4 linked regions of the Homo sapiens genome follow. The protein of the gene in region 4 interacts with the protein of the main gene of each other region in a pairwise test. Each region holds a gene or a part of one and is shown on either strand. Other genes may lie near its edges. The genes, in order: UBIAD1, GALNT2, GAD2 and MRM3.

Region 1 (7,961 bases), on a different chromosome or scaffold from region 4:
ACCTCTTCCACTACCACCCGCTAGATACAAGCCACCAAACATCGCTTGCCTGGATTATTCAAGAGCTTCCTACTTGGTCTTCCTGCCTCTACCCTTGCCCCACTCCCCTTGATCCATTCTCAATACCTTACCCAGAGCAATTCTTTTAAAACATTATATTACATCACTCCCTTGCTCAAAGTCCTGCAGTGGCTCCTCCATTCCAGAGCCAAGACCAGTGGCCTACAAGGTCTATATAATCCGTGTGTGTGCCTCCTTACCCTCCCCAAACGTACTTCTCTTACTTTACCTCTCTTTACTCTCTCCTTCATTCACACACTGGACTTCTTGCTGCTCTGTAAGCTCTTTGGACACATTCCTGCCTGAAGGCCTATGGCACTTGCTGTTGCTTTTCCTGAAATGCTCCTCTCTCAGATATCTGCTTGGCCAACTCCCTCACCTCTTACCTCCTTCAATGTAACTCAACTCAAATACTACCTTTCTGAGGCATGGTCTCACTCTGTCGCCCAGGCTGGAGTGCAGTGGTGTGATCAGGACTCACTGCAGCCTTGACCCCTGGGCTCAAGCAATTCTCCCGCCTCAGCCTCCAAAGTAGCTGGGACCACAGGCAAGCACCACCATGCCCAGCTAATATTTTTTATTTTATATTTTATACAGACAGGGGTCTATGTTGCCCAGGCTGGTGTTTAACTCCTGGCCTCAAGCGATCCTCTCGCTTCAGCCTCCCAAAGGGCTGGGATTACAGACATGAGCCACTGCACTCAGCCAAATGTTACCTTTTTGATGAAGCCTACCCTGATCAAACTACTTAAAATAGTAATCTGTGTCCCATTCTTTGCTCTACTTTTTTTTCCCATAGCACTTATCATCTTTCATATACTATAATCAGGGTGATCAATTCAACCTGACTTACCAGGAACTTTTCTGGTTTTAGCTCCAGAAGTCGCACATCCGACTTAGTCCTGTCACCTTAGTCCTGAGCAAACCAGGATATTGGTCACCCTAACTATAATTTTCTATTTTTACTTTCTGTCTCTTTTCATGATAATACGTAAGTTTCACAAGGGCAGGGATCTGTGACTGCTGTGTTCACACAGAACAGTGCCTGGCACATAATAGGTGCTCAATAAATAGGGCTTACCCACCTGCCCATCACTACCTTAATCAGCCTCTTGCAAGAAGTCACCTAGCAAACTAGCTAGAAGTAATTATCTATATCATTTTGAACTCTTCAGATTTAATTCTAATATTTGAAACTGTGGCATTATAAAGTATGAGTGATTAAAAAAAAAAATGAGACAGAAAAAATGTCCATATAGGCCGGGCATGGTGGCTCACGCCTGTAATCCCAGCACTTTGGGAGGGCAAGACAGGCAGGTCATGAGGTCAGGAGTTCAAGACCAGCCTGGCCAACATGGTGAAACCTTGTCTCTACTAAAAATACAAAAATTAGCCAGGCGTGGTGGCACATGCCTGTAGTCCCAGCTACTCGGGGAGCTGAGGCAGAAGAATCGCTTGAAGCCGGGAGACAGAGGTTGCAGTAAGCCGAGATGGTGCCACTGCACCCTTGCCTGGGCAACAGAGCGAGACTCTGTCTCAAAAAAAATAAAAAAAATTAAAAAATGTCCTGACAGGGCGCGGTGGCTCACGCCTGTAATCTTAGAACTTTGGGAGGCTGAGGCGGGTGGATCACGAGGTCAGGAAATCGAGACCATCCTGGCCAACATGGTGACACCCCGTCTCTAATAAAAATACAAAAATCAGCCAGGCGTGGTGGCGTGCACCTGTAGTCCCAGCTACTCGGGAGGCTGAGGCAGGAGAATCGCTTGAACACGGGAGGCAGAGGCTGCAGTGGGCCGAGATCGCACCACTGCACTCCAGCCTGGGCGACAGAGCGAGACTCCGTCTCAAAAATGAATACATAAAAAATAAATAAAAATAAATGTCCATATAAAATTTTCAGTCATGCCCTACGTCCGTAAGTCAAACCAGGATCTTCTCAAATCACTGTTTCAAAAAATTCACATCACCCACAATTATAGACTTCAATTAAAGCGGCTTAAATTAGAAAGCCACCTTTGACATCCCTATAACTCCTTTACAAAGCAGCGGTTTCCAGTGGACGCGACTAAGACCTGCAGCACACAGGACAGGCCAAATCTTACCTCCTGTGTAGAGAAAGGAGCCAGACAGGCCTCCAAAGTAGATAAGAGCCAAGTGCTCCAGTTTCAGAGGGGACAGGTAGTAGAGGCAAGCGGCACAGACGCAGCCCAACGTGTAGAGGAAGACTCCGAACCGGACGACATCCTGCGGCTCCAAGATTCGGTCCACAAGTGTCCTGTCATCACTCTTTTTGTGGTCAATGCCCTTGGAAAAGTCATAGTAAGTGTTGACCAAATTACCGGCCCCGTGCACAGCCAGGACAGCCACGGCACAACCCACCAAGAGCCTGGGATCCAGGACACCGTGGGATCTGTAGGCAAGGGCACTGCCCAGGGCCACCGGTGTGAGTGAGGCACTGAAGCTCCAGGGCCTCAGGGCCAACACGTAGGAGGCACACTTCTGCCTCCAGGAGCGCTGGGGGAGCCTATCTTGCTCGGGACAGTCGTTCCCCAGCGGGTCCCTGTCCCCAGCTTTGACAGTCTCTCCCGACAGGATGTTAATCTTCTCCCCCAGGACCTGAGAGGCCGCCATGGAAGCTCCACGTGGTTGAAGTAAACTCTAAAAGTGAGCCACGCACAGTGACCGCCCGGGAAGGAGGAAGGACGGGGCGGGGCAGCAGGGCCCGACCTTCCTTCGGTTCCGCCCCAGGACAGGGCTGGTGTGGCGGCAAGGTCCGGGGGCAACAGCAAGTGGGTCTTACACCCCACGAGGCCAAGCGGCGCCGCCCCTACTACCCGTCACCTGGGCGAAGTCTGTCTCCGGCCCCCAGCCCCGCGTTAGAGCCCACGGCTGAGCCGCGGCCGCCTTCTTTAGGCCGCCAGAGCCGCCATCTTGTGCGCCGGCCTCTGGAGGCCCGCCCGGAAACAGGTGCCGGCGGCGCGGGCTGGACCGGAGGGTGGGCTGGAGGGCGGGAGGGGGCGGGGCCGAGCCAGAGGCGGGGAGAAGGGCGGTGAGGGGTGGGGGGCGGGGGCCTGGTCAGAGGCGGGGCGGGCAGGGCCGAGTCAGAGGAGGGGCGGGGTCAGAGGCGGGGAGAAGGGCGGTGAGGGGTGGGGCGGGGCTGAGGGGCGGGGCCAGACCGGTGGTGGGGCGGGAGGGGGCGGGGCCGGGGCGGGAATGGACCGGGAGCGGGGACGGGCCAGGAGCTGGGGCCGGGCGGTGACCCGGCATCCAGCCCTTTTCCTGCCTGCACTGCGCCCCGCAGCTACTTCCAGACTAACTGCAATCAGCCTCTCTTAGCATCATAAGAACTCGAAGGCGTGTTGCTTTAGGACTTACCGGGCGCACTTTCATTCACGAAGTAGGATTCATTAATTTATTCATGCTACAAGCATTTATTGAGCGCCTGCTGTGTGCATACATTCTGACGTCTATCATATCTGCACCGTGGAAATACTCTATGATGTGCTACTGCTCACCTCTTATCAGCTTTTCATTCAGTGACATCCTTCAGCAGCTTGAAATCTGCCCATGGTGGGAGAATTTACACCACGCAAATCAGCAAATGCTTAATAACTGCTAAGTCGTCTAGACTTAAGAAAGTGGCGGAGAAAATGTTCATATTACTGGTTAAACTTAAAAGTGTTGGAGGGTGCGGTGGCTCACGCCTGTAATCCCAGCACTTTGGAAGGCCGAGGCAGGCGGATCACTTGATGTCAGGAGTTCGACATCAGCCTGGCCAACATAGCGAAACCCTGTCTCTACTAAAAATACAAAAATTAGCCGTGCGTGGTGGCAGGCACCTGTAATCCCAGCTACTCGGGAGGCTGGGGCAGGAGAATTGCTTGAACCCGGGAGATGGAGGTTGCAGTGAGCCAAGATCATGCCAATGGGCTCCAGCCTGGGCAACAGAGTGAGACTCCATCTCAAAAAAAAAAAAAAAATTAGCCGGGGGTGGTGGTGCATTCCTGTAATCACAGCTACTCGGGAGGCTGAGGCAGGAGAATTGCTTGAACCCTGGAGGCAGAGGCTGCAGTGAGCCAAGATCACGCCACTGCACTCCAGCCTGGGCAGTAGAGCGAGACTCCGTCTCAAAAAAGAAAAAAAAGAGAGAAAAAAAGTGTGTAAGTGAATGCACCAAAACTTTGAGGAAATATTCGTTCAGCATTGGCAAATTATTATCCAGTTGAACAAATAAGTCGCTTGTAGCCTTGACAAACTAGTGAAGTTCTGACATATCTCTTTTGATTGTTTCACTTTCCTCTTACTCCTAACATAAAATATCAACCAACATTCATGTCTGAACTATGCTCATTGATCAATTGGGACCATAGGGAAGCTACACAACATCAAAGAAAGCATACTGTGAGAACTGGCTATATGGAGTTTACAATAGAGTCCTGTACTGTATATTTTAGTATTTGTAAACTGTATGCTACACATCATTTACATCAGTGAAATTATAATACACATGCAACATAGATGCACACAGGACTGACTACATAATTTGTGGTACCCAGTGCAAACTAAAGAGGTGGAGCTGGGGGTGATAATGTGTGCCTGTAGTCCCAGCTACTCAGGAGGTTTTTTTGAGACGGAGTCTTGCTCTGTTGCCCAGGCTGGGGTGCAGTGACACAATCTCGGCTCACTGCAAGCTCCGCCTCCAGGGTTCACACCATTCTCCTGCCTCAGCCTCCCGAGTAGCTGTGACTACAGGCGCCCGCCACCACGCCCGGCTAATTATTTTGTATTTTTAGTAGAGACAAGGTTTTACCGTGTCAGCCAGGATGGTCTCTATCTCCTGACCTCGTGATCCGCCTGCCTCAGCCTCCCAAAGTACTGGGATTACAGGTGTGAGCCACCGCACCCGGCGGGAGGATCTCTTGAGCTCAGGTTAGAGACCAGCCTGGGCAACAAAGTGAGATCTCCGCTCTAAAAAATTAAAAAGACCAGATGTGGTGGCTCACACCTGTAATCCCAACACTTTGGGAGGACAAGGCAGGTGGATCGCTTGAGCCCAGGAGAAGACCAGCCTGGACCACACGGTAAAAATCGAAGAATTAGCCAGGTGTGGGCCAGGTGCAGTGGCCCACGCCTGTAATCCCAGCACTTTGGAAGGCCGAGGCGGGCAGATCATGGGGTCAGGAGATAAGACCATTCTGGCTAACATGGTGAAACACCATGTCTACTAAAAATACAAAAAAATTAGCCAGGCGTGGTGGCAGGCACCTGTAGTCCCAGCTACTTGGGAGGCTGAGGCAAGAGAATGGCATGAACCCCGGAGGCGGAGCTTGCAGTGAGCCGAGATCGTGCCACTGCACTCCAGCCTGGGCGACAGAGCAAGACTCCATCTCAAAAAAAAAAAAAAAGAAAAAGAAAAAGTAAAAGAATTAGCCAGGCGTGGCAGTGTGCACCCGTGGTCCCAGCTACTTGGGAGGCTGAGGCGGAAGAATCACCTGAGCCTGGGAAGTTGAGGCTGCAGTGAGTCATGATTGTGCCCCTGCACTCCAGCCTGGGTAATAGAGTGAGATCCTATCTCAAAAAAATAAAATAAAATCAATAAATAAGTGGGGCCAGGCCAGGCACGGTGGCTCACGCCTGTAATTCCAGCACTTTGGGAGGCCAAGGTGGTCAGATGACCTGAGGTTGGGAGTTCAAGACCAGCCTGACCAACATGGAGAAACCCCGTCTCTACTAAAAATACAAAATCATCCGGGAGTGGTGGCGCATGCCTGTAATCCCAGCTACTCAGGAGGCTGAGGCAGGAGAATCACTTGAACCCGGGAGGTGGAGGTTGCGGTGAGCCGAGATCGTGCCATTGCACTCCAGCCTGGACAATAAGAGCAAAACTCCATCTCAAAAAAAATAATTAATTAATTTAAAAAATAAAAAAAATAAGTGGGGCCTCTTGTTCAAAATCATTAACAATTGCAAAACAGAGCATGACACAGCTGTGAAGCTAGCTCTGTACATGTCTGCTTCCACTTACCCCCAATCTGGTTGTTGAACATTACAACTTCACCACTCAACACAGAGCTTTCTATGCTGGCCAAACCCATGAGTCATACAATGTCAAATCAGACAATATATCAGCAGATAGATTAAAATCCTGGCTCTATCACTTACCAATTCCATGTCCCAATATCTCTGTTCTTTGGCTTACTTATATATAAGGTGGGAACAATACAACCTGCCTCATAGAAATGCTCAGGAATAATAGTAAACAGCATTTATTGACTTTTCACATGAGCCATATACTTTGTTTGCTTTTGAGACGGAGTCTTGCTCTGTCGCCCAGGCTGGAGTGCAGTGGTGCGATCTCGGCTCACTGTAACCTCCACCTCCCAGGTTCAAGTGATTCTCCTCCTCAGCCTCCTGAGTAACTGGGATTACAGGCGTCTGCCACCATGCTCAGCTAATTTTTATATTTTTAGTAGAGATAGGGTTTTACCAAGCTGATCTCGAACTCCTGACCTCAGGTGATCCACCTGCCTTGGCCTCCCAAAGTGCTGGGATTACAGGTGTGAGCCACCATGCTGGGCCAAGTACCTCTTTTAGGTACTTTACGTGTGGTATTAGCGTTTAACCCCCACAATACTGCCTACCAACGAAGAGACTATAATCCTTCCAGTTTTACACATAAGGAAATAGGTACAAAGTGTTGCAGCCAAATTTCAGATTCAGTTAGTTTGACTTGACTCCAAGCTGCTTTTAACAAGTACTCTATAATGTCCACCAAAATCCCTGATACACTGTAAGTGCTCAATAAATATTAGCTATTATTTTAGTGTAATGCATAAGAAAGTTCTTTGTAGTGGGAGTTGAACAATGAGAACACATGGACACGGGGAGGGGAACATCACACACCGGGGCCTGTTGGGGGTTGGGGGGCTGGGGGAGGGATAGCGTTAGGAGAAATACCTAATGTAAATGACAAGTTGATGGGTGCAGCAAACCAACACGGCACATGTATACCTATGTAACAAATCTGCACGTTGTGCACATGTACCCTAGAACTTGAAGTATAATAATAAAATAAAAAGACTTGCAAAAATACAATAAAAAAGAAAGTTCTTTGTAAACAGAAAAGAAACCGACAAACGCACTTATTACTGTTGCTATAAAATCATCTTTGATTATTAATTAGAAAACAGGGCTGTATCATATCTCAGGGTGGCAAAAATCTCCTATATGGCTGATGGGAATAAAAATTGGTACCTCCCTTATAGAGATCAACTTGACAAGATTCAACAAAACTGTCTAACCCTGTAATCCCATTTCTGGGAATTTATCTTGATATAGCTGTCAGGGAAGAAAATGATATACGTACAAAGGCATTCACTGCAGCATTTGTAATAGCACAAATTTGGACATAACACAAATGTCCATTCACAGAGGACTGGAAAATGAACTATGGCACAGCCATGTGATAGAACACTATGCAGCTGTAGCAACAACAAAAGGACAAGAAACTCTGTGTGTACCAAGATGGAAATGAAACCGTCCCAACAAACTTTATAAAATTAATCAGGGGCCAGGTGCGGTGGCTCACACCTGTAATCCCAGCACTTTGGGAGGCCAAGGCAGGCTGATCACTTGAGGTCAGGAGTTCGAGACCAGCCTGGCCAACATTGTGAAACCCCGTCTCTACTAAAAATACAAAAATTAGGCTGGACACAGTGGCTCACACCTGTAATCCTAGCACTTTGCGAGGCTGAGGCAGGCAGATTACCTGAGGTCAGGAGTTCAAGACCAGCCTGGCCAACATGGTGAAACTTTGTCTTTACTAAAAATACAAAAAATTAGCCGGGTACAGTGGGGTGCGCCTATAATCCCAGCTACTCTGCCGAGGTGCACACCTG
Region 2 (7,645 bases), on a different chromosome or scaffold from region 4:
ATTTGGTATTTGTCTTTTTGTGTCTCGCTCATTTCATCTAGCATATTGTCCTCAACGTTCATCCATGTTCTGGTATGTGTTAGAATTTTCTTCTTTTTTAGGGCTGAATAATATTCCATTGCATGGATATACCACATTCTGCTTGTCCATTTATCTGTTGATAGATATTTGTGTTGTCCCACCCTTTGGCCACTGTAAATAACACTGCTATGAATGTGGATATACAAATATCCGTTTGAGTCGCTGCTTTCAATTCCTTTATGTATACAACCAGAAATGGAATTGCTGGATCATATAGTAGTTCTAAATTTAATTTTTTGAGGAACCACTATACCATTTTCAACAGCAGTGCGTAAGGGTTCCAATTTCTCTACATCCTCACCAACACTTGTTATTTATTTATTTATTTATTTTAAAAATGTTTTATAGGCTGGGCGCGGTGGCTCACACCTGTAATCCCAGCACTTTGGGAGGCTGAGGCAGGTGGATCATGAGGTCAGGAGTTTGCGACCAGCCTGGCCAATATGGTGAAACCCTGTCTCTACTAGAAATACAAAAATTAGCAGGGCATGGTGGTACATGCCTGTAGGCCCAGCTGCTTAGGAGTCTGAGGCAGGAGAATGGCTTGACCCCAGGAGGTGGAGGTTGCAGTGAGCCGAGATTGTGCCACTGCACTTTAGCCTCGGCGACAGAGCAAGTGTCCACCAAAAAAAAAAAAAAAAATTTTATATAATAGCTATCCTAATGGATATGAAGTGGTATCTCACTGTGGGTTTTTGTTGTGTTTTGTTTTTTATTTCCATAATCAACACTGGAGGTACATTACAGTTTGTCCTCATGAATTCTAGTTGTTCTCATGAGGTACATTTTGTCCTTGCAGTTTTGACTTTGTCTTTGAAATGCCCCATGTCACATCTAGCTATTCTTCTGATTCCCAGGTCTAGAAACTACAGTGACTTCAGACCTGCCCCATGTACAATGGAAAGACTTCCATAACCTTTTTTCTTCTACCTCTAACATTGTCTAAAGTTTAATCTCTATCATACATCGCTTATTCCATCAAACTAATAATGATTTTACTTTGCAGATCAAATCCTAATGATATACAATTGATAAGTGTTTAGGAAGGGAAGTTTTGGGCTATAAATTGTCCCTCTTCATCTCATTTAATGCTTTTTGGCCTACTCTGTTTTGTTTGATATCAGAATCACAGCACCTGCTTTTTCAGAGTTGGGGTTTCCGTTATGCCTACATTTGAAAATCTTTTATTTTAAAGGGTGAACTGAGCCCACTTATAAATTGTTATATCTGATGTGGGTTGGTCTCAGCTGTGTCATATTGTTTCCTATTATAACTACTGCATCACTGTGCCACACTTACTGTGTTTCTTTCATTATTTGGTATGTATTCTTTGCTATTTTTAGAACTTTTGGGGTTTTGGAATAGGGTTTCCAATATTTGGGAATACATATATTTTGTTGTAGTGATTTTTATTTATATTTTTAATATATTACCCTTAATTCCTATATTTTGTTTCTAACCTTTTAACATCTGGTCTGTCTGTTTTATATGGTATCCTTTCACTACTACCTGCTACTGATATTGCAGACAATGATATTATTCTATTTTCCCTTCGCTCTTCCCCTTCTCCTCCAGTTGTCTTTAGTTGCACCTGTTCTAAGTTTATCAGAAAGTATAATGTATATACACTAGTCTTTCACCTTCTGAATATACAAAATGCTCTCCATTAGTCACTCTGCTGGCTTCCTCAGCTGTCTCTTGGTTGGAGGAAGCTCATTCTCTAAGATTCCTCATGAAAGGCCCATGTGAGTCACGTTCTCTGAATTTTTGCATTCAGGTCATATCTGTTTGCCTACAACCTTGACACTTGAGGGCTGGGTATAAAAATCACTGCCTGGTACTTTTTTGTGTGTGTGTCATGGAGTCTCGCTCTGTCACCCAGGCTGGAGTGCAATGGCATGATCTCAGCTCACTGCAACCTCTGCCTCCCGGGTTCAAATGATTCTTCCACCTCAGCCTCTCGAGTAGCTGCGATTACAGGCACCTGCCGGCTAAGTTTCATATTTTTTTTAGTGATGGGGTTTCACCACTTTGGCCAGGCTGGTCTTGAACTCCTGACCTCAGGTGATCCACCCACTCTGGCCTCCCAAAGTGCTGGGATTACAGGCATGAGCCACTATGCCCAGCCTGCCTGGCACTTTTGTTCCTTGTTAATGCTGCTCCACTGTTGCCTGGCTTTGCATGTTGCTGTTCAGAAGTCTGATGCCAGCATAAATTTTTATCTCTATAAGCAATTTGATCTTTTTTGCCTTTAAAATCTAATCGTTTTACTAAAATATATTTAGGAGTTGATAATTCCAGATCATTTCCCAAGGTACATGGAAGTCACTTTTGACATGTACATTTAAATTTTCCCTTATTCCTGGATTATTTTCTGGGGTTATAGTTTTAATATTAATTAGGTTTTATTGTTTAATGTTTGTACTTTAGGGACTCCACTTAACATGTATTTTGGTCTTCCTTTCCTGGCTTTTATTTTAACCTCTTCTCTCTGAACCTTTTTACTTCTATCTTTATATTATTTTCAATTTCTTGATTGTTTTCTTGCCATTCTTCAGTGTCCTTTTACATATTTTCATTTGAATATATTTTCCCTTGGACACCTTGTAATTATTCTTTGTTTCTGGGATAGTTTTTGTCATTACTTTCAATTTCCTTCTTGAATTTGCTCAACCCTTGTTGCATTTCTTCCTAATTTTTGTCTAGTCTGTCTTCAGTTCTTGAAATTTCTTATCCTAGATATGTGTGTGTGTGTGTATGTGTATACAAATACGTGACACTTTGTTCAGTTTGACATGTGGTATTACAATTTTCTTATGCTTCATGGTTTTTATTGTGGGGGTTTTCATCAGCGAAAATGTTATGATTTATTTTTTATCATCAGAAATGTGATTTCTGTTTTCTTTTTGCAGAATCTTTAAATGCAGTTGATTTGATGTTTTTCTGTTACTAGGCATTTTGAGGCAGGGTTCCCGGTTCAAGAGTGTTTTCTTTTATCTGTGTACTGAAATGCAGTTTTTAATAGATAATGTTGGTGTTTGGGGAGGGGACTGGCTGTCTTCTCTTTCATTTCTGCAGGATTTGTAATTTTCCCTTCTGACTTCCTTCTTTCCCTTCATTGTCAGGCCTCTGAAGGACATTATCTTCTTTTCGTATTTATCTGACTTTTTCCCAGAAACAAGGCTCCTTCAAGCCTCTCACCTCTTGTCCCATTTTCTTTCAAATCTCTTCCCTTGATCAATAAGGCACCTGACCTCTGTTCAGTTTTTAGTTCTTGGTGTTGGACTTTCTATTTATAAAGAGGTGACAACCCTGTACTTCACTTAAGTCCTTGGCAATAGTGGAGGGAGCTCAGTTGGAATTTGGTATCTTTTCTTTCTTCTACTTAAGTAATTTAATGTTCAGTTCATGGCATTCTCTCTAAGTAATGCTGAAGGCTTGTTTTTGTTTCGTTGAGGATATGGGTACGGACTTATATCAGGCAGCTGCCATTATCCTCTGACCGAGAAGCTCCTGAAAACATTTAATATATCAAGTTCTAAGTAAAATTTCTGTCTTTCTTAGGAACACTGGAAGCTTTGCGTGTTGCAAGGGCATCACCAAGGTTACATAGATTATGTTACAAGACAGATCGTTTTCTTGTATCGTTAAAGATGCTTAATGTGCTTTTTAAAGAACGCAACGAATGAGAAAGAAAAGATTTTAAACAATATATTATTGCTTTCCTTCTTCCTCATTTTGTGTTTATTGAAAAGAACAACTCTACCATTGATAGCTCTGTCACCCACAGAAAAATGTTCTTTTGAAAATTACCTTCTCAGTTCCTACCAACTCAAAACCTCCACATCTGCCTATATAGATAAATAAAATCGATACCAGCGGGTCAGGAATGTTTTGCTGCAAGATTAGTGAGAAAACTGCAGCAAGCAGCAGCAAAGTCGGGTTCAAGCGGGCGGTTTGCACCAAAAACTCAGGTCAGTTGGCCAATAAGAGCAAGCCCGTTAAGGGTCTGAGGTGGCCCCAAAGACCAAGGCTGAAGAGGTGACAGTCTGGGCAGGAAGCACCGAGGCCACTACCGCCCCCGTAATCGAGAGGCCCCGTGTGCGTGAGCAAGGCTCTTTGCCCACGTGTGCGCGCGCTCCAGTCGGGTCCCGGGGCAGCCACCTGTCACTCACGGGGGAGGGGGCGGCCGGCGGGGGGAGCACGCTGAGGGGCGGGCGGCCGGGGGCGGGGCGGCGCCCAGGCCCTCACGGCGGAGCCCGGCGTGCTGCAGCCATGGAGACGCGGCAGTCCCCTCCCGCGGCCCGCGCCCCGGCCCCCGCAGCCGCCGCCGATTGGTCGCCCTTTGCTCCCTGACCCCCCTCGCCGCCTCCGAGGCCGCTGCTTCCTGCTCTGGTGCCGCGCGGCGCCGCCGGCCCGGGGCGGAGCTCGGGCGCCGAGTGCGCGCCGCCGCCGAGCAGTAGCACCGCGCGGGAGGAGGAGCCGCCGCCGCGCCCTTCCCCTTCCTCCGCTCCTCCCCCGGCCCCCACCGCGCCCGCGGCCGGCCCAGGCAGCACTCGCGAGCAGCGGCGGCCCCGCCGGCGGCCGAGTTGGGAGAATGCGGCGGCGCTCGCGGATGCTGCTCTGCTTCGCCTTCCTGTGGGTGCTGGGCATCGCCTACTACATGTACTCGGGGGGCGGCTCTGCGCTGGCCGGGGGCGCGGGCGGCGGCGCCGGCAGGAAGGTGAGTGGAGCGCCCTGCCGCGGCCGGGCCCCTGCGCCCACCCCCCACCCTGCGCCCCTGTCCCCTGCCCTCTCCGCGCCGCCCCTGCGCTCCTCCGCCCGGACCTCCGCTCGCGTCGCCCGCCCTCGTCCCGGGCCTCCGCGCCGAGTGCCCAGGGCAGGGGTGCACCCGGCCCCTCTGCGCACGCCGGGCTCCGAAAGGGCGGCCCCCGCAGCCTTTCTCTGCCCCCTCTCGTGGACGTCGCCCCTCTCTCTGCTCGTCGTAATTCGAGTCTTGTCCGGCCGCCGGGAGCCCCATCCCCTGCGGTTGGAAGTTTAGGGATGGGGGTGTTGGGAAACACAAAGGGGGTGGGGAGGAGAGGAGAGAGAGGCGACCGCTTTTCCAACGCGTCATGTACAGCAGGAGAGAGGAGTCCAAGTTTCTTTTCAGCCCTTTGATACCAGCGGCTGCAAATCCTCGTCCCTTTCCCCCTGTCACTCCGCGGGGCGTGGGTTCCGTGTTTCTGCCACCTTCTTTGCCCTTTACCTTTGGGGGGCAGGGGCGGCCGCTCCCGTGCCAAGTAAAGCCCCAGGGCCCGTGCGAGCCAGGGGCCAGTGCGCCCCTGCGCCCCGAGCGAGGCCAGTCCCGGCCGTTCCCTTGCGGCCCCAGCGTTACCCTCTGCCCAACCCGGCCCCCGGCCCTCCCGCGCGAGCCGGACGTGGCCTCCTGCGCTTGCATTTTCCATCCCCACTCCCCGCTTCAGGGAGAATCCCTCTTCTGTGGCTGTGTTTTTAACATGCTCCAGGGGCCGAGTGATCTGGCTGTGGGGACCGTGTGAGCCGCTCTGCGGTTCCGCGTCCTCGTGCCGCCGCTCCGGACGGCCGGGCCCTGGGCATTCGGGAGGATGGTGAGCGCCGAGAGGAGCCGGGACAGCGCGGTCCTGCGGCCGAGCGCCGGCCGGGAGAGCAGGGCGTCGGGCTGTGTGCTGGAGCATGCCGGCAGGGGACGTTTGTAGTGTTTTACTGGCTCCTCGGCTTTGAAAGCAGCGTTATCTTTTCCGAATTCCTGTAACCCTCGTTACTGTGACATTTAGTGTCACCGCAAACCCAGAAAATTCTGAGTTAATGGAGATGGACTACGGGTGGTTGGGTTGGAACAAGAGAGTGGTATCCTGAAACAAGCCAGAGGGAACTAACTAGATGAACAGACTTCAGTTCTGAAGTCAGACCCCTAAATGTCCACGCCGGGGTTTGGCTGCTTCAGAGGTTTTTTCTTTGCTTCATTCATTCATTCATAGCCGAAGATGTTAGGTGGAATGGGTGCCTTATGTGGTTTCTGGTAAATTACGTGGATTTGTTTTATCTAGAAGGGCAGAAATAAAGCCCTCTTTCCACGTGCTGAATCGGCCTAGCTTCTGAGCTGACATTGTACTCTTAGCGTTGTTTTTGTAAAAAATGGTATAGGTAGTATATGTACGCGAAGACTTGGTTTATTCTTGAACAGCAAAGAGCATGCAGGCAGCAAAAGCCGTGCAGTCCATTCAGAGATATAATCGTGTAAAACTGGAATGATTTTTAAAACTTTGCTTCCCGGTAAACTGTGCCTTGGCCACTCTGCATAGCCTGGTGTGCTGGTGAGACCTGGCAAAGCTTTCTGCCTTTCATGCAAAGAAAACCAAACACATAAGCCACCCTTGGCGTTTCTCTTTCCTTAGTCTGCCACTTTCATTAGTACACGTGATTAGAAAGAGCAAGCGTGCTCGTTCGCCTCCCGGAGGCTGATTCCTCACTCTGGTGGGCTTCAGTTCCTGGATGGTGTGAGGGGTCTTCCATGCAGAAGTCTTCAGACACTCCTGAAGTGTGTGATTCTTAGTTTGTTTTTTTTTGTTTTGTTTTGTTTTGTTTTGTTTTTTTTAAAGAATTCCTGGTGGCAATATAGACAGGTACGGAGACCAGGTAGAAAAAGTGGGGGAAATGAACAATTAATTACACATGGATTGGTGATTTGGGATTCTATTCTTTCTGTCAACGAACCATAAAATTTAATGCTACCCCTTAGGATGCTTTAGTGATTTGTCGGTTGAGGAAGAGGTGTGTAAATGCAATAGCTTTTGAAATTGCAGTGGAAGACTCATTAACTTCGTGTGGTGGACCCAGGGTTAAAGAGAAGCCTTAAGATGGTTTCTGAAGGAGGTAAATAGAGCCCTGCTGTCACGAATGCCTGATGTATAGGAAAATCGTGTAGTCTTCTTTCTTCCCCAATTGTTTCCATGGATTTAGACACTAGAAGTGTCTCTAAATTTATTTCATTCTCATACCAAAAAAAAAATGTGGTTTGTTTGGCTTGTAAAGTATGGACATAAAAAAAGATAGCGGGCCATGCACAGAAAGGCAGAATTTAAAAGCTAGCTATAGTTTTTTTAGAGATAAGTGGACCTATATTTTTTCTCTTGCCTCATACTGTTCAAGTCAGGGCTTTTATTCCATATTTAGCCAGTTTCTGCACATCCTGACGTTTTTCATAGGGTACTAGGCTGCAGTATTGGGCTTTAGGGATCGTCTGAGGGGAGTCCAACTAGGATTTCTGCTGCTTCAGCAGCCCAGCCCAGGCTTGTCATTGTGTGCCCTGCCTGTTAAGTAACTCATCACAGAACTGTTATTCTCCACTTGGCAAAACCCAGAGAGCCAGCTCACCTCAGATTGCAGGTTTAGTAAACTAAGCAGGAGGGAGTGCTGAAGACCAATCTCAGGCACTGCCGCACAACTCGGGACTCAACACCCAGGCTCAGGACATGTATGTTAAAGCAGTTTATTCAAAATATTGTTTAAAATTATGTTTCATTTACATTTGTGTCCATACCCT
Region 3 (7,150 bases), on a different chromosome or scaffold from region 4:
ATTGTGTCAAATGGCCAACCTTTCAGATTTGAATTCAGATTTTCACTTATTTTTAAGGAAATGTGCACAACACACAAGCAGGCATGATACAGACTAGCTTAGCAATTCAGCCATGTTATATAAGGATGTGTGTTCCTCCCAGCCACTGTATATGTGAGATAAAGAAAAAGGGGGGGAGGGGCAAATCAGATATCCTTAGGGGGAAATTTTTTTAAATGTACTTTTGTGGTCTCTTGGCTTTTCACAGGAGTCTTTATATTCCATCCATATTACAGCTTCATTTATAACATTTATTTGGGTGCATTCCGAGCTTTCATGTTATCTACACAAAGTCAGCCATTCATCTGCCCAGGTCTTGATTACCCTCGCTTTTTACGTTGTCTCTAATCATCCTGATACACGATGGCTGACACTTCATTACGGCAATAAAAATAAGTATGAATGAATTTCCAGGGGTGGGGAGGACTTTGTGGATCGAAGTTGATGTGTAGCCTTTAAAAGATTTGCTAGCAAATAAAAAATGTGAAATATGACATGAACATTCATCACCATAGAAACGTCATCTTTTTAGATTGCAAACATTTTGCTGATGAATTAGCAGTATTACGCTAATCAATAACAAACATTCTTAAAATGTTTGCTGTGAGAAGTTTAGTTCTTTTTTTCTTTTTGTTCACATTATTTGTACCAACAGAGAAGAAAGGTAGGCATACAAAAAGCCTTGGGACATAGATTTCTATCAAAGTCAGGCTATGGAATAGGAGTTTTGAAGGTGTATTAGACATCATCCTCAATTAACGTTCATGAAGAACCCACGTGATGTTTATACCAGGCATTAAAAATTTTCCTACCCCTCCTCAGCTTTTCCTGCATTCATAGTGCAATCCTGGGTGATGCTTTTAATTCATTTTTTGACCCATTCCCCATACCTTATATTTAGATACGTTAATAGTAAATTGCCACCTATTGTTTGTATTGCTACCAAACCAAAAAGAACCTATGGAAATGTTTTGTGTCTTCATCCTTGAAAGCTAGTGGTGCCTGAAATGCAGTCTACAGAGTTAAGATAATGGGAACTGCAAGTCAATGAAAGTAATAGTTCTGTCTATCAACGTTGCATTTAGTGCCAGGAAAAGATGGGCTAATTCAATACTTACATTTTGCCATAATGCTTATGAAACTGTTAGGTGTCACTGTAATGCATTTTATTTAAAGTTCAGATAAAAATGTGATGGATTAAGTTGGATTTCTAAGCAAGGCATATCAATTCAATCTCTCAATAGTTTTCATAACATATTTAGTCTGCTGGCCTTTTCCTTCAAATAGCATTTCAAAAAATTAACAGCAGTCATTTTCTCTATTCAGCTGGCAACTTTATAGATTTCTGTGCTATAACTGTCATACTTGTCATCTAATGCTATTTAGGGTATGTCAAATTAGTTACCATCCTTGCTACTACCAGACATTTTAATACTCCTCAAGAGATTATTTTATAAAATGCATATTATCATCTTGTTTCTACTGAGAGACCTTAACCTGATTTCCACTTGGGCTCCAAGCTTAGAGAGGAGTGAAGGGCAGTGGGAAAATGAAGTCTTCATGGATTGTTAAAATTACCTCTGTAAAAAGAAATGTTGGAACACGGAAAACTGAGCAGAGAATGATAGAATTCCAGAATAATTTGCATTTGCAGAGATCATTAGATTTGGTGCTAGTGGTGGTGGTGCTGGCTGGGGAAGAGTAGGACTTAAATGTGGTCCTGAATCTTTTACCAAACCATCAGACAAAGGGAATTAAGCGTCAGTAGATGAGGCAGCCCTAGTGTGAGTGTTGCCAGGACATAAAGAGCAGTTTGGACCGACTTTTGGCCTCTTCCCAACTGATCATGAGCACAGGGTCAGAGTTGCCTGAGGCTGGTTGTTCGCAGAGTCTGCGCATCCTTCCGGGCTCATTTGCTAGTCTGCAGGGAGCATCCCTGAGTCTGAGCAGCCAGTTCTCACATCTCAAGCTCGCCACCTTCCTGGCTGCATAGGCTGTGTGGCCACCCAATGGCTGACGCAGTGCGCTCTGCTCCCATCACAGGGCCTGGCAGGGTGGCGACAGCAGCAGGAGGCCAAGGGCTGCAGGGACACCTGACCTATGGGGGCAGGTCTCACAATTCCTTGGAGAGAGCCCTGCCTTGATTTGCTGGGCAGCCCTAGGAAGCAGCCTGTAGGGGCCACAGGATGGGAGCAAATGTCACTAGGGGAATATTTCTGCCAGAAATCGAGAGAGCCTGTTGATCTGACCTGTCAAACTATCTCCCTCCCTATTTTCACATCATCATCAGGGAATGAAATTTTTGAGGCAGGAGAGATTCAGGTGAAATGGCAGAGCAAGGTCAAAATATATATAGGGAGGAAGGGAAACCTAGCAATGAAAGCGTCAAACCTGTTTTCACTGTTTACGGAAAGTTATCATCAGGGTGAATTGGCCTTCTGATATCCAGAGGCACAACACACCCCTCACAATCTCTCTCCATCTTATGCACAGGTTTTCATTCCCAAGTTTCCCTAGAGTTAAATACTGTCTAATCATAGACACCACATTCATCCAGAAAATGAATATGAATTATAATCCTTATTAATTTCCTCACTTGAAAAAAAAAGGGTTAGGGAAAGAGAAATGAAGGAGCATCGGGAGGGAGGAAATGGCTGTGATTTCAGCTGCGAGCATAATGAAATGGGGAGTCAATGAGGCAGAGAGGAGTGAAGGGTTGCTCCAGACCTCAGTGGCCACAGCAGCAAAAAAGCCTTCTCACCCTTCGTGGATGGGTAAACTGAGGGGGTCAGCATCAGAGATAGAGGGGTACCACACGAGGCCACAAGGACATAAAACAATGCTGGAGAATGTACAATAGATACACAAGTCCTGATCCCGCTAAAATGGGCTCCCTCCCAGCTTATATCTTTACCCAGTGTCTGTCTGGCCACATGCCTGAGGCTGATAAGAGAGCACTCCAGTGCAGGAGATAAGCTAGCCATTGACTTTTGTCCCTGCTCTTCCCCATTGCCTTCCTTTATCTTGTTTTGCCTGTGCTGGAGATGAGAGACAATCACATCCCAGGCTTCAGACAGATGTCCAGGATGTGGAAGATACCTTTTTATCAGATGCTATTTCCACAATGGCCCATCTTCTAAAATTTTTGCTGCTGTGCAAATCACGGACCTATCGATGACAGGCTTTTGTGGAGCAAGAGGAGAAAACTGAATGCTAATGACATATTTATAATCACATTTTAAATAATAGCCTCAGGAGAGTGTGGATGTCAATCCATTTAGAGAGTTTTAGAGGAATCTAGAAGTTAATTAGATAAGCCTTGCGATGGACTAATCAGTCGATTGAGTATATCTTTCTGTATCTTGTTGATAAAACAGTGATGTTGACTGTATGTGGCCTTATTTTAAATCACAACTATGGAGGAGCGCTGTTGTTTATAATTAACAAAGAAGAATTGACAAGAATTAGCTTTGTCCATGCCATCTTTAGACAATCATCACCTTTTGAATCCAGGGCAAATCATTCAGCAGAGTGTCCTATTTTCTCATTTTTGCCCTGTCTTTTGTAATCATCAGCCATTTGTCACTGATATTATTATGAATGTTGGCATGCCTGGCGGATGTCATGGTATGACCGATTCTCAGAACGACTACAAAAAAGGACTTCTAGCAGCATGAGTATAAAGGAGAAGTTACCTGTCTGAATGGCTGTGGGTTGCAGTAGCATTTTAGCTTGCGAAAATATTGAAAATAGAAAAGAGACTCATGCAGATTGCAAACCATATTTGTTATATTTATAGGGTCCGATTAAAGGAAGATTTGTAGGGTATGTTTTAAGAAATATCAAAACCTAAAGTAGTCTTCGTGGTTAGAGGAAACGCTTTTATGGTGTGTGTGTGTGTGTATGTGCATGTGTGTGTGTGTGTGTGTTCTTGTGCATACACACGTGTGTACATGTTGGATTTCTACTTATGGATTTCCTGTTACTGACAGATCTTTCAAGGTCCTTTAGCTAGAGAAATCATGTGTTTGAGAGGCATTTATTTTCACTGGAGGCAATCCTGATTCTGGTATTCCATTTTATTCAGGGCATCCTAGATACTTCAATCAACTTTCTACTGGTTTGGATATGGTTGGATTAGCAGCAGACTGGCTGACATCAACAGCAAATACTAACATGTAAGTAGCCAAATGTGTTTTTATGTAATTTAGGATAATTATTAGTGACATTCCATAGTCTTTACATCTTATGTGAAAATCTGTTTTTTATTAAGTAGCCACTAAAATAGTGATACAAACTTCTGAAGTGTGAGTGTTCACTTTAATGTAACAGAAAGTAGTCCTGATACATCTTCCATGTAATCAAACTCTACAAAATTTTTAAAATACAAAAGAGACTTTTTTCTCACGTTTGATTTATTATTGTGCATAATGTCAAAGACAAATGGGACCAGATATTATATTTTAAATCATGTTACTCTGCAATATTTTTTATTTATTCAATACAATAAATTCCCCTCGTGCATTATGTCAGTAGTTGGAGCTCTTGACTGTAGGGATATAGAAAAAATAAACATTTTGGAAGGCCTTTTTGAAATAATTTTCTCTCTGCTTAATGTTATAATCATAACACTTGTAAATGTATGTTTTGAAAAAGGAAATAGTTCTGTAGCTATTGTAATGATTGTAAATTATTTATCTGAGTTACAGAGGTAAAATGTGGCCATTACTACATTTCAGGTTCACCTATGAAATTGCTCCAGTATTTGTGCTTTTGGAATATGTCACACTAAAGAAAATGAGAGAAATCATTGGCTGGCCAGGGGGCTCTGGCGATGGGATATTTTCTCCCGGTACATGATATTTCAACTTTCTTTGTGTTTTTTCTTCTAATATGCAATGCCTTGTTGTAAACCTAGGGAAGATTAAAAATCTAGCCTATGCCTCTGCTTAGGTTAAATAGACTGTGTGTTGATCAAAAGAATGACTGTGATTAAGTGCACATGACCATTGAACATGCCTCCAAGCTAAGTAACCCATGCTTGAACATCAGTTATTTGTGTGCAAAGTGAGCATAATCAGAGATGGTACTTACCCAGTGCTTCTACTGTGACCCTACAAACAGGATGTACGGATAATGTGGAACAAAGGAATCAAGATTCCTAATCAGGAAATTCACTCTCTGATGCTCTTCCTAGAATTAGTGAAAGGAAATGGGTAGCCTCATTTAATAAAGCATTTGCTGTTCAAGGGTGCATAGCAAGGTATATCTACTCAGTAGAGCATATGGACCACTCTGTCTTTGAAATAACAAGCACCAAAGTGGATTTACACTAATTTCAAGGAGGACAGAGAACGCTTTGGGAGAGAATTTCTTAGAGCAAAAATAGAGGGTGACGATTTCTTCAAGAGATTTCTCATCCCTTCTCTTCTTTATCATGCCATTCAGTCTTTTCCATCCTGCCTTTTTATCACCAGCCATTGAATTCTAAGCTCCATTACTTAGACCTCTTCCAGCCAAGAGAATCAACCTGAAACAAAAAGCTGTGCCCTTGGTTTACAGTTCTGTGTGTGACCTTGGTTTGATGCAGAAAAGAAATAGAAGTTAGGAAGGCAATGCAAAGAGAGTCACTGACCCATGGAAAAGAAACCCGATGTGCAGACCATCAGCTAATCAGTGGCAGGAGCGGATGTCATTAGTCCACTGAGACAGGACCCACCTGAGAGAGAGGCCAGAGCAACACCTGTCGTTGTGTCAGACAGAGCAAAGGCCAAGTGGTTGTGCTCTCTCTTCAGCAAATCTACAAAGACAAGCAAATGATGAGGCGGGGATAGGGGAGAAAAGAAAAAGTGAAAAGAAGAAATGATAAGCAAGAGTGACCCCAAGGCCAGGGCTTAAGTTAAGCATGTTTGCCTGCAAGCTCTGGTCAGCTATTTTATGTGTTTAAATATATAGCACAATTTTTCAGGTGCTGAAGGAAAAGGTGTTAGTTAAATGGAAGGGAAAATTAGCCTTTTAAAAAGTCATTGAACACCAGCTGTGATGAATTTTAAGCTAGCCTTTATTTTTTATGGCACTTAGTACTTAGTTTTCCTTTGGAAAGCCATCCCTGTTGAGGGAGCTTGGTCATCATTGCCTGATGCTTTGAAAACATTGTTCATGAGGAATGAGGTGGGGTACAGAGATCCACATCATTTCTACCTTTCTTCTTCCCACCCTTGTGTGGTTGGTTATAGGATTGATCTGTCCCTGAGATGAATCAAGAACATGCTGGGCTCTATTTTTTTTTCTTTTATTTGCATTTATTTTATGCTGAATTTATTCCCGTGCATAAGTTTTAATGGTCCCCGGGAGTAGGGAGAGGACAGATGTACCTGTTGACCCTGAAAATTTGACTAATTTGACTAACAGCTAGGCCTAATTTACCTGGCTGGTCTGAAAAACCTACATGCCCCAGAAAACATACACCCAGAGAAATAATTCTCTTAGGCAGTTCTGCTAGGCTTAGAGCTTACCCTCCACCCTCACTGATAATGGGGGATTTTCACATGGAGAAGACTTCAGCTTGAGCATGGGAATTATAGGCTTCCTTGGAGCCTAAAGACCCATTTGCTCTTACGCCAAGATGCAAGCCATAGATGTCACACTACAGTGCAGTGCAGACATTGCAAAGTTGGGAGGAGACAGCAGAAAAGGTCATTGCAACCTGTTTCTGCTCTACTTTCTACAAGACATCACAGACGAGAAGTGGCTCATCACATCCTTACTGGCTATGGATGCTATTCCCGGGAGCAACCAGCCTTGCTCCTGCAGTAAAGGGTCTTACAATTTAAGGGGTGGGGATAGAGAAAGCCACACATCTTATGCATCTGGGATCTAAAAGTCTCATTCCCTGGGACTCAATGTGAAGAGTTAGGTCTGTGACTTAAAACATACTGTGTCATAGCTCCATCAATAATATCCAAAGCCTTCATGCTTCATGGAAAGTCCTTTAGGACTCCTAGAAGAAATCTGCTTTTGTGATGTCACCTACACTGGGAACCAGAGAAATACAGAGCATTCCTTACTGCTCAGCAGGTCACAAAGCACAAAGACTAAAGAGGGGCTAGGA
Region 4 (7,150 bases):
CTTTTTCCAATTTTTCTCTTTTCCCATAAATTCTTTCCATAAAACTTTAGAGATTAATAATGTAGAGATTATATAATGTAGATTATTATATAATGTATATATAATTTTATCATGTAGAGATCATTAAATAAGGAGAGAATTTTCCACTAAGAAGGCCACTTAGGGTTTTCATTTTCCCAGATAGTCCCAGACCCCATTTTACTCCTTTGTATTAGACTGAGGACAGAGCGGTCGCCAGTAAGTGGCTGTACCCATTCTAAAGCTCCCAGGCTTCTGGACCTCCAGCGTGAGGCCTTGGAAGTGACTCAAGCGTTCACTGCACCTACAGCCCCTTCGTTTTGCAGAGTATGTCCCTAAGACAGTGCTTCTGAGCCAGCGTATTTGAAAAAGGGGTTGTTACTTTGATGCATTCAAGTTTTGAAATTCATATTCTTTTTCCTAGGAATGTAGTTTGAATTTTAAAATGAGTGATAAAGGAAAGATAAATCAGTATAGCAGGCTAATAATTGTTTTTTAAATATTTAAGCCTATAAACTATTTTTTAAAAGCCTACCTGGTAGGAAGATGGGCACAGGTTGTAGAAACAAGACAGTTAAAGGAGCACAGGAATTCACTGAAGAAGATCGCAGTCAGTCAGTAAGGTGTTTAGCTTCTCTAGTAATCAGAGAAAAGGCAAGTTAAAATAATGGCATGCTGTTTTTTCTATCACATTGGGACAAATGGAAACAAATGATAGACCCGCTTTTAAGAAGGGTTTGAGCTGGAAAACAGGTTTTGTTTTGTTTTGTTTTTTGTTTTTGAGATAGTGTCTCTGTTGCCCAGGCCGGAATGCAGTGGCGCGATCTTGCCTCACTGCAACCTCCACCTCCTGGGTTCAAGCAATTCTCTTGCCTCAGCCTCCTGAGTAGCTGGGATTACAGGCATGCGCCACCATGCCTGGCTAATTTTTGTTTTTTGTTTGTTTGTTTGAGACGAAGTCTCGATCTGTCGCCCAGGCGGGAGTGTAGTGGCGTGATCTCCGCTCATTGCAAGGTCCGCCTCCCGGGTTCACACCATTCTCCTGCCTCAGCCTCCCGAGTAGCTGGGACTACAGGCGCCCGTCACCACGCCCGGCTAATTTTTTTGTTATTTTTAGTAGAGACAGGGTTTCACCGTATTAGCCAGGATGATCTTGATCTCCTAACCTCATGATCCGCCCACCTCAGCCTCCCAACATGCTGGGATTACAGGCATGAGCTACCGTGCCTGGCCTAATTTTTGTATTTTTATTAGAGACGGGGTTTCACCATGTTGTTCAGGCTGGTCTCAAACTCCTGACCTTGTGATCCGCCCACCTCAGCCTCCCAAAGTGCTGGGATTATAGGCATGAGCCACTGCGCCCAGCCGAAAACAGGTATTTATGAGTTCCTGATGTGAATAAACTGAAAGAGCCTGTGTGAACGTTAATAGTGCACGCACATCATTTGTCCATTTCACTCACAGGTATTTATGCTAGAGAAATTTTTAGACACATGGACAGACAGTCCTACAGGGATACCCATTGCAGCAGCATTTGTAACAGGGAAAAATTCAAATAATTTAACAGTCCATAGGGGAAGAGCTAAATGAACTGTGGTACATTCATACTACAAAATAGAGGCTGGGCATGGTGGCTCACAACTGTAATCCCAGCACTTTGGGAGGCCGAGGAGGGTGGATCACCTGAGGTCAGGAGTTCGAGACCAGCCTGGCCAACATGGCAAAATCCCGTCTCTATTAAAAATACAAAAAATTAGCCGGGTGTGGTTGCGGGTGCCTGTAATCCCAGCTACTTGGGAGGCTGAGAGGCAGGAGAATTGCTTAAACCCGGGAGGCAGAGGTTGCAGTGAGCCAGCATTACACCATTGTACTCCAGCCTGGGCAACAGAGTGAGAGAGTGGGACTCTGTCTCAAAAAAAAATAGCCTACAGCAGTTAAAGGAAAAAAGTAGCTTCAAACATATTGACATGGTAAGTTCAAGATATATTGTTGCGTAAATAAGTCGATTACAGAATAATACAGAGTATGACACGGAATGTAAAACACATTTACATATGGACAGGTGTGCATATATATAGGTAGATGCATAGAACAAGTTCTAAAAGGATACACTCCAAAACAGAACAGTTGAGGGGGAGGAGAGTGGTACTGGTAGAATTTTATGTTGTTTGAATTTTGCCAATCAGAATGTATTCGTGGTTTTTTTTTTCCTTTTTTTTCTTTTTGAGAGGGAGTCTCACTGTGTCGCCCAGGCTGGAGTGCAGTGGCGTGATCTTGGCTCACCACAACCTCCACCTCCCAGATTCAAGCGATTCTCCTGCCTCAGCCTCCCAGGTAGCTGGGACTAGAGGCATGCGCCACCACGCCTGGCTAATCTTTGTGTTTTTAGTAGAGACGAGGTTTTGCCACGTTGGCCAGGCTGGTCTCGGACTCCTGACCTCAGGTGATCCACCCGCCTTGGCCTCCCGAAGTGTTGGGATTACAGGCATGAGCCAGTACACCTGGCCTGTATTCCTGTATTTTTATGTAACTAAGACCATATCAAGATTGATAAGTAAATGAAAAGTCAGACTATTCCCCGTGCCCACACCAGGCAAGTAAACCACCTGTTTTGTTTCCTCAGGGATTTTTGCCAAGCCTGACCATGTTAAGATGACATATCCAAAGACTCAGCTTCAGCATTCACTGCCTTTATTATTGATTTGTGACAATCTCCGTGACCCTGGGAACCTGGGGACAATTCTGAGATCTGCAGCTGGGGCAGGCTGCAGCAAAGTGTTACTCACCAAAGGTAAGGACATCAAAGGCCAGGCATAGTGGCTCACACTCGTAATCCAGCCCTTTGGGAGGCCGAGGCAGGAGGGTCACTTGAGCCCAGGAGTTCAGGACCATCCTGGGCAACATAGTGAGACCTCATCTCTACAAAAAAAACTACAATTAGCTGGGTGTGGTGGGGTGTGCCTGTACTCAGTCCCAGCAACTTGGGAGGCTGAGGTGGGAGGATTGCTTGAGCCTGGGATGTCAAAGCTCATCACATGTCAAGTGAGCTCATCACTGCACTCCAGCCTGGGCGACAGAGTGAGACTCCCTCTCAAAAAAATAATAAACCAGGTGGATTAGTTGGTCTGGTCTTTTTTTTTTTTTTTTTTTTTATTAAAGAGATGGGGTCTCACTATGTTGCCCAGGCTGGTGTTGAACTGGCTCTGACTCAAGCAGTCCTCCTGCCTCAGTCTCCCAAAGTGCTGGAATTATAGGCATGAACAACTATGCCCAGCCAAGTCAATCACTGTTAGGTGAGCTATGGCTCTGGGCAGGCAGACATGCATTGGATCTTGGGTCTGCCTTCACTAGCTGTGGTCCCTGAGCAGTAGCTGGAATGACAGGCATGAATAACCACGCCCAGCCAAGTCGACCATTGTTAGGTGAGCTAGGGCTCTGGGCAGGCAGACACGGCTTTGGATGGGTCTGCCTTCACTAGCTGTGGTCCCTGAGCAGTAGTCCCTGAAGTGTCAGCTTCCTCGTTGGTGAACTGGGAGGAATAACAGAATCTCCCTGGTCACTGTGAGGATTAAGTGAGATGATGCACAGAAGTTACTTCATACCTTACCTGCCTCACGAGTAATTCAGTCAATGTTGATTCTCTTTTTTAAAAATTATGTTTTTTGTAGAGACGGGGTCTTGCTGTGTTGCCCAGGCTAATCTGGAACTCCTAAGCTCAAGGGATCCTCCTGCCTCGGCCTGTCAAAGTGCTGAGATTATAGGCATTAGCCGCCATACCCAGCCATGTTTATTATCTTTTAAAATTATCATGAAACCTGCTAGGCTGTTAGAGAACTTCACATCGATTATGGAAAAGAAATAGATGCCAATTTTAACACTTGGTTTCTGGTTCTTTATGTAATGATATTGAGTTCCCAAATTGCTGAGTATATGAGCCACTCCTGAGTCTTGACTTCTGAATCCTATGAAAGGAATGACGTCAGCAGCTCTGAATCCTAATGTCATTGTGATCCGTTTCCCTTAGATTCCCTTAGCCTCAGCGTGGGTCACATGCCCCGCACACAAATTCGCCTCATTACATTTCTGTCTCTTCTCATCAGAAATAGGGATTAATAGGCTTGGCTCTAAACAGACTTTCCTCACAGTTGGAGCACGCCTAAAATGTCTCTTACACCTTGGGAGGTGGAGGGGACAGAGAGTACCATTCATCAGAAACACCCCAGCCACCATTAAAAGTAAACTAATAGTGGCACCCGTTGTTGAGACTTGCCTAAATTGCTGCTCGCAGCTCTTTCTCAGTCACGCCTTGCTAGAATACGTTTCTGTGCCAGTGTGAGAGCTACGTGCTGGGGTTCTGTGATCAGTACCCGCTTACTCGCCCCATTATTTAGTGCTCTGATAGCTGTTGTGGGATTTGGAAATAAATCTAAATAATCCAAGCATTGTGGTTTTCACATTGATACTGATGGCTGGGGTGTAAGAAATAGGGAAAGAAGGTAGGAAATACTTGGTGTGGTGCCCAGTATCCAGGACATGAGGATGACGGGAGGAGTCTCGCCTTTCCCCTTTCCCTTCTCCCCTCCAGGCAGAGGGGTCAGCCTCGGCCGCTCCTCTCACACGCCTGGGCCTATCTCTGGTTTCCTGCAGGGAGAGGGAAAGCCCGTGGCTGGGGGTGCAGGCGCTGTTACATCCTCTGTGTCTTATTCTCCGTTTAAAATCTGGTTTGCCTGGTTCGTCTATCCCGAGGTTTGACAAATGAACTTCTAAAATAACTCGTCAGGAGAAGACTTGCGCTAACAAGCTGTGCGGGGGAGGGTGGGAGGCCATGCAGTCACTGCGAGGCCCCACCCTCGGCCACTCTCCCAGCCCGCCCGTGGTGAGGAGCCGCCCCTGGGAAAGGCCAGGCGTCGCAGGCTGCTGCCGGGGTTGCCTCTTGCCTCATTGCCTCATCTCTAGAGTGTTCCCTGCTCCGGTGCAGACTGAACGTTGAAGCCCAATGGGTCTTGATGAAACTATAGATCTGATTCTGTCACTGCTTTGCTTAAGATCCCTCAATGGCATGATACTGTCTTCTGATAAAATGCCAAACTCCTCAGCTTCCCATAGGAGGCCTCCTCCGTGTTGGCCTGCCCACCTCCCACCTCCTGTGCCACTACAGCCCCAGCGCTGATTGACCGGCTCACTGCCTGTGCCACCACACCCCCACCCGCTGATTGGCTGGCTCACCTCCTGTGCCGCCACAGCGCCACCGCTGATTGGCCGGCTCACCCCCTGTGCCGCCACAGCACCACCAGTGATTGGCAGGCTCACCTGTGCCACCACACCCCCACCCGCTGATTGGCCAGCTCACCTCCTGTGCCACCACACCCCCCCACCCGCTGATTGGCCACCTCAACTGTGCCACCACACCCCCACCGGCTGATTGGCTGGCTCACCTCCTGTGCCGCCACAGCGCCACCGCTGATTGGCCGGCTCACCCCCTGTGCCGCCACAGCACCACCAGTGATTGGCAGGCTCACCTGTGCCACCACACCCCCACCCGCTGATTGGCCAGCTCACCTCCTGTGCCACCACACCCCCCCCCCACCCGCTGATTGGCCACCTCAACTGTGCCACCACACCCCCACCGGCTGATTGGCTGGCTCACCTCCTGTGCCGCCACAGCGCCACCGCTGATTGGCCGGCTCACCATGCTTGCAGTCCTTAGGCTGCGCCACTCTCCCGCTTCCTCTCCTAGCTCTGTCCTCTGCCTGGGCCTTTATCTCAGTGTGGTGGTCTTTTAGATGGTTTTCCTCATCGCCCTGCTTTGTCCGTGGGTTTTCTATGACTGTGTGGGTGCTTCTTTTACATCAGTTACTGATACTGTAGCCATCTGTTTAATACCACCCCACTACACTGTGCGTTCCTTGGGGTTGGGGACTTTCATTATCTTTGCATCTTCTGCGCAGTGTCTGGCACGTGTGAATGGGAGATGTTGAAGGGATGCATAAAATATCTTCAGCACTAGCAGGAGTGACTCCTATAGTCGCTGTGCTGGATGCTGTCAGAGAGAGGCAGAAGGTCCCATCCCTCAAGAAAGCTATCATAGAAGAACTGGTTTATCTCCTGATCCAAAATTGATCAGACTTACTCCACAGTCCCCTGGTCTGGGAAGATTTGTAACATCTTGATTGTTTCCTTTTTATTTTCCAGGCTGTGTGGATGCCTGGGAGCCCAAAGTGCTCCGGGCGGGTATGGGCGCACATTTCCGGATGCCCATTATCAATAATCTGGAATGGGAAACCGTGCCCAATTACCTGCCCCCTGACACTCGGGTCTATGTGGCTGACAACTGTGGCCTTTATGCCCAGGCTGAGATGTCTAATAAAGCTAGTGACCATGGCTGGGTGTGTGATCAACGAGTGATGAAGTTTCACAAGTATGAGGAAGAGGAAGATGTAGAAACCGGAGCCAGTCAAGATTGGCTGCCTCATGTTGAGGTTCAGAGTTACGACTCGGACTGGACAGAGGCGCCGGCAGCTGTGGTGATTGGCGGGGAGACCTACGGCGTGAGCCTGGAGTCCCTGCAGCTGGCCGAGAGCACTGGTGGCAAGAGGCTGCTGATCCCCGTTGTGCCTGGTGTGGACAGCCTCAACTCGGCCATGGCGGCAAGCATCCTGCTTTTCGAAGGGAAAAGACAGCTGCGGGGGAGGGCGGAGGACTTGAGCAGGGACAGGAGTTACCACTGAGGACGCAGAAGTGACTTCTGCTTGAGGACGTCTGCAGCTCCTCCTACACCAGCACACTGGTGGGAGGCTGGCGGAGTCAGTGACTATGGCCCCCACGTTCAGGAGGAAGGTGTGATGCCGTCATACAGTTACAGGAAAAATAAGAACTTCCTCAGAAAGAACAGGTCCGAATTCTTCCTGTCGCGTCACTGATTTTGAGGTTCTTTTTTCTCTTGGTGACAATAGGTGACCCACGTGGCTCTGTGTGTTTTTAAAAATTGTCCACCAAGAAGCACTTTGTGCCCAGAAAGTTCCTGAAGCATCATCCTGGCAGGGAGGCGCCTGCTCCACCAGCTGGTGGGTGTTTGTAATCGCCAAGCACCAGCTATAGGTCACAGCCACATCACTCACAGCTGATCACTGGT

The links.
Region 1: the proteins of MRM3 (region 4) and UBIAD1 interact in binary tests that used the Homo sapiens proteins (3 or more experiments, as listed by UniProt).
Region 2: the proteins of MRM3 (region 4) and GALNT2 interact in binary tests that used the Homo sapiens proteins (3 or more experiments, as listed by UniProt).
Region 3: the proteins of MRM3 (region 4) and GAD2 interact in binary tests that used the Homo sapiens proteins (3 or more experiments, as listed by UniProt).

Annotation. Positions count from the first base shown.
Region 1 is NC_000001.11:11,268,265-11,276,225, reverse strand, and holds the start of UBIAD1 (ubiA prenyltransferase domain-containing protein 1), read right to left. Parts: upstream 3,029-7,961; 5' UTR 2,695-3,028; coding exon 2,166-2,694; intron 1-2,165. UniProt on the Homo sapiens protein: Prenyltransferase that mediates the formation of menaquinone-4 (MK-4) and coenzyme Q10. MK-4 is a vitamin K2 isoform present at high concentrations in the brain, kidney and pancreas, and is required for endothelial cell development.
Region 2 is NC_000001.11:230,062,603-230,070,247, forward strand, and holds the start of GALNT2 (polypeptide N-acetylgalactosaminyltransferase 2 precursor), read left to right. Parts: upstream 1-4,635; 5' UTR 4,636-4,678; coding exon 4,679-4,804; intron 4,805-7,645. UniProt on the Homo sapiens protein: Catalyzes the initial reaction in O-linked oligosaccharide biosynthesis, the transfer of an N-acetyl-D-galactosamine residue to a serine or threonine residue on the protein receptor.
Region 3 is NC_000010.11:26,219,761-26,226,910, forward strand, and holds part of GAD2 (glutamate decarboxylase 2), read left to right. Parts: intron 1-4,126; coding exon 4,127-4,217; intron 4,218-4,778; coding exon 4,779-4,891; intron 4,892-7,150. UniProt on the Homo sapiens protein: Catalyzes the production of GABA.
Region 4 is NC_000017.11:785,324-792,473, forward strand, and holds part of MRM3 (rRNA methyltransferase 3, mitochondrial isoform 1 precursor), read left to right. Parts: intron 1-553; exon of another isoform or gene 554-572; intron 573-2,641; coding exon 2,642-2,809; intron 2,810-6,210; coding exon 6,211-6,746; 3' UTR 6,747-7,150. UniProt on the Homo sapiens protein: S-adenosyl-L-methionine-dependent 2'-O-ribose methyltransferase that catalyzes the formation of 2'-O-methylguanosine at position 1370 (Gm1370) in the 16S mitochondrial large subunit ribosomal RNA (mtLSU rRNA), a conserved modification in the peptidyl transferase domain of the mtLSU rRNA.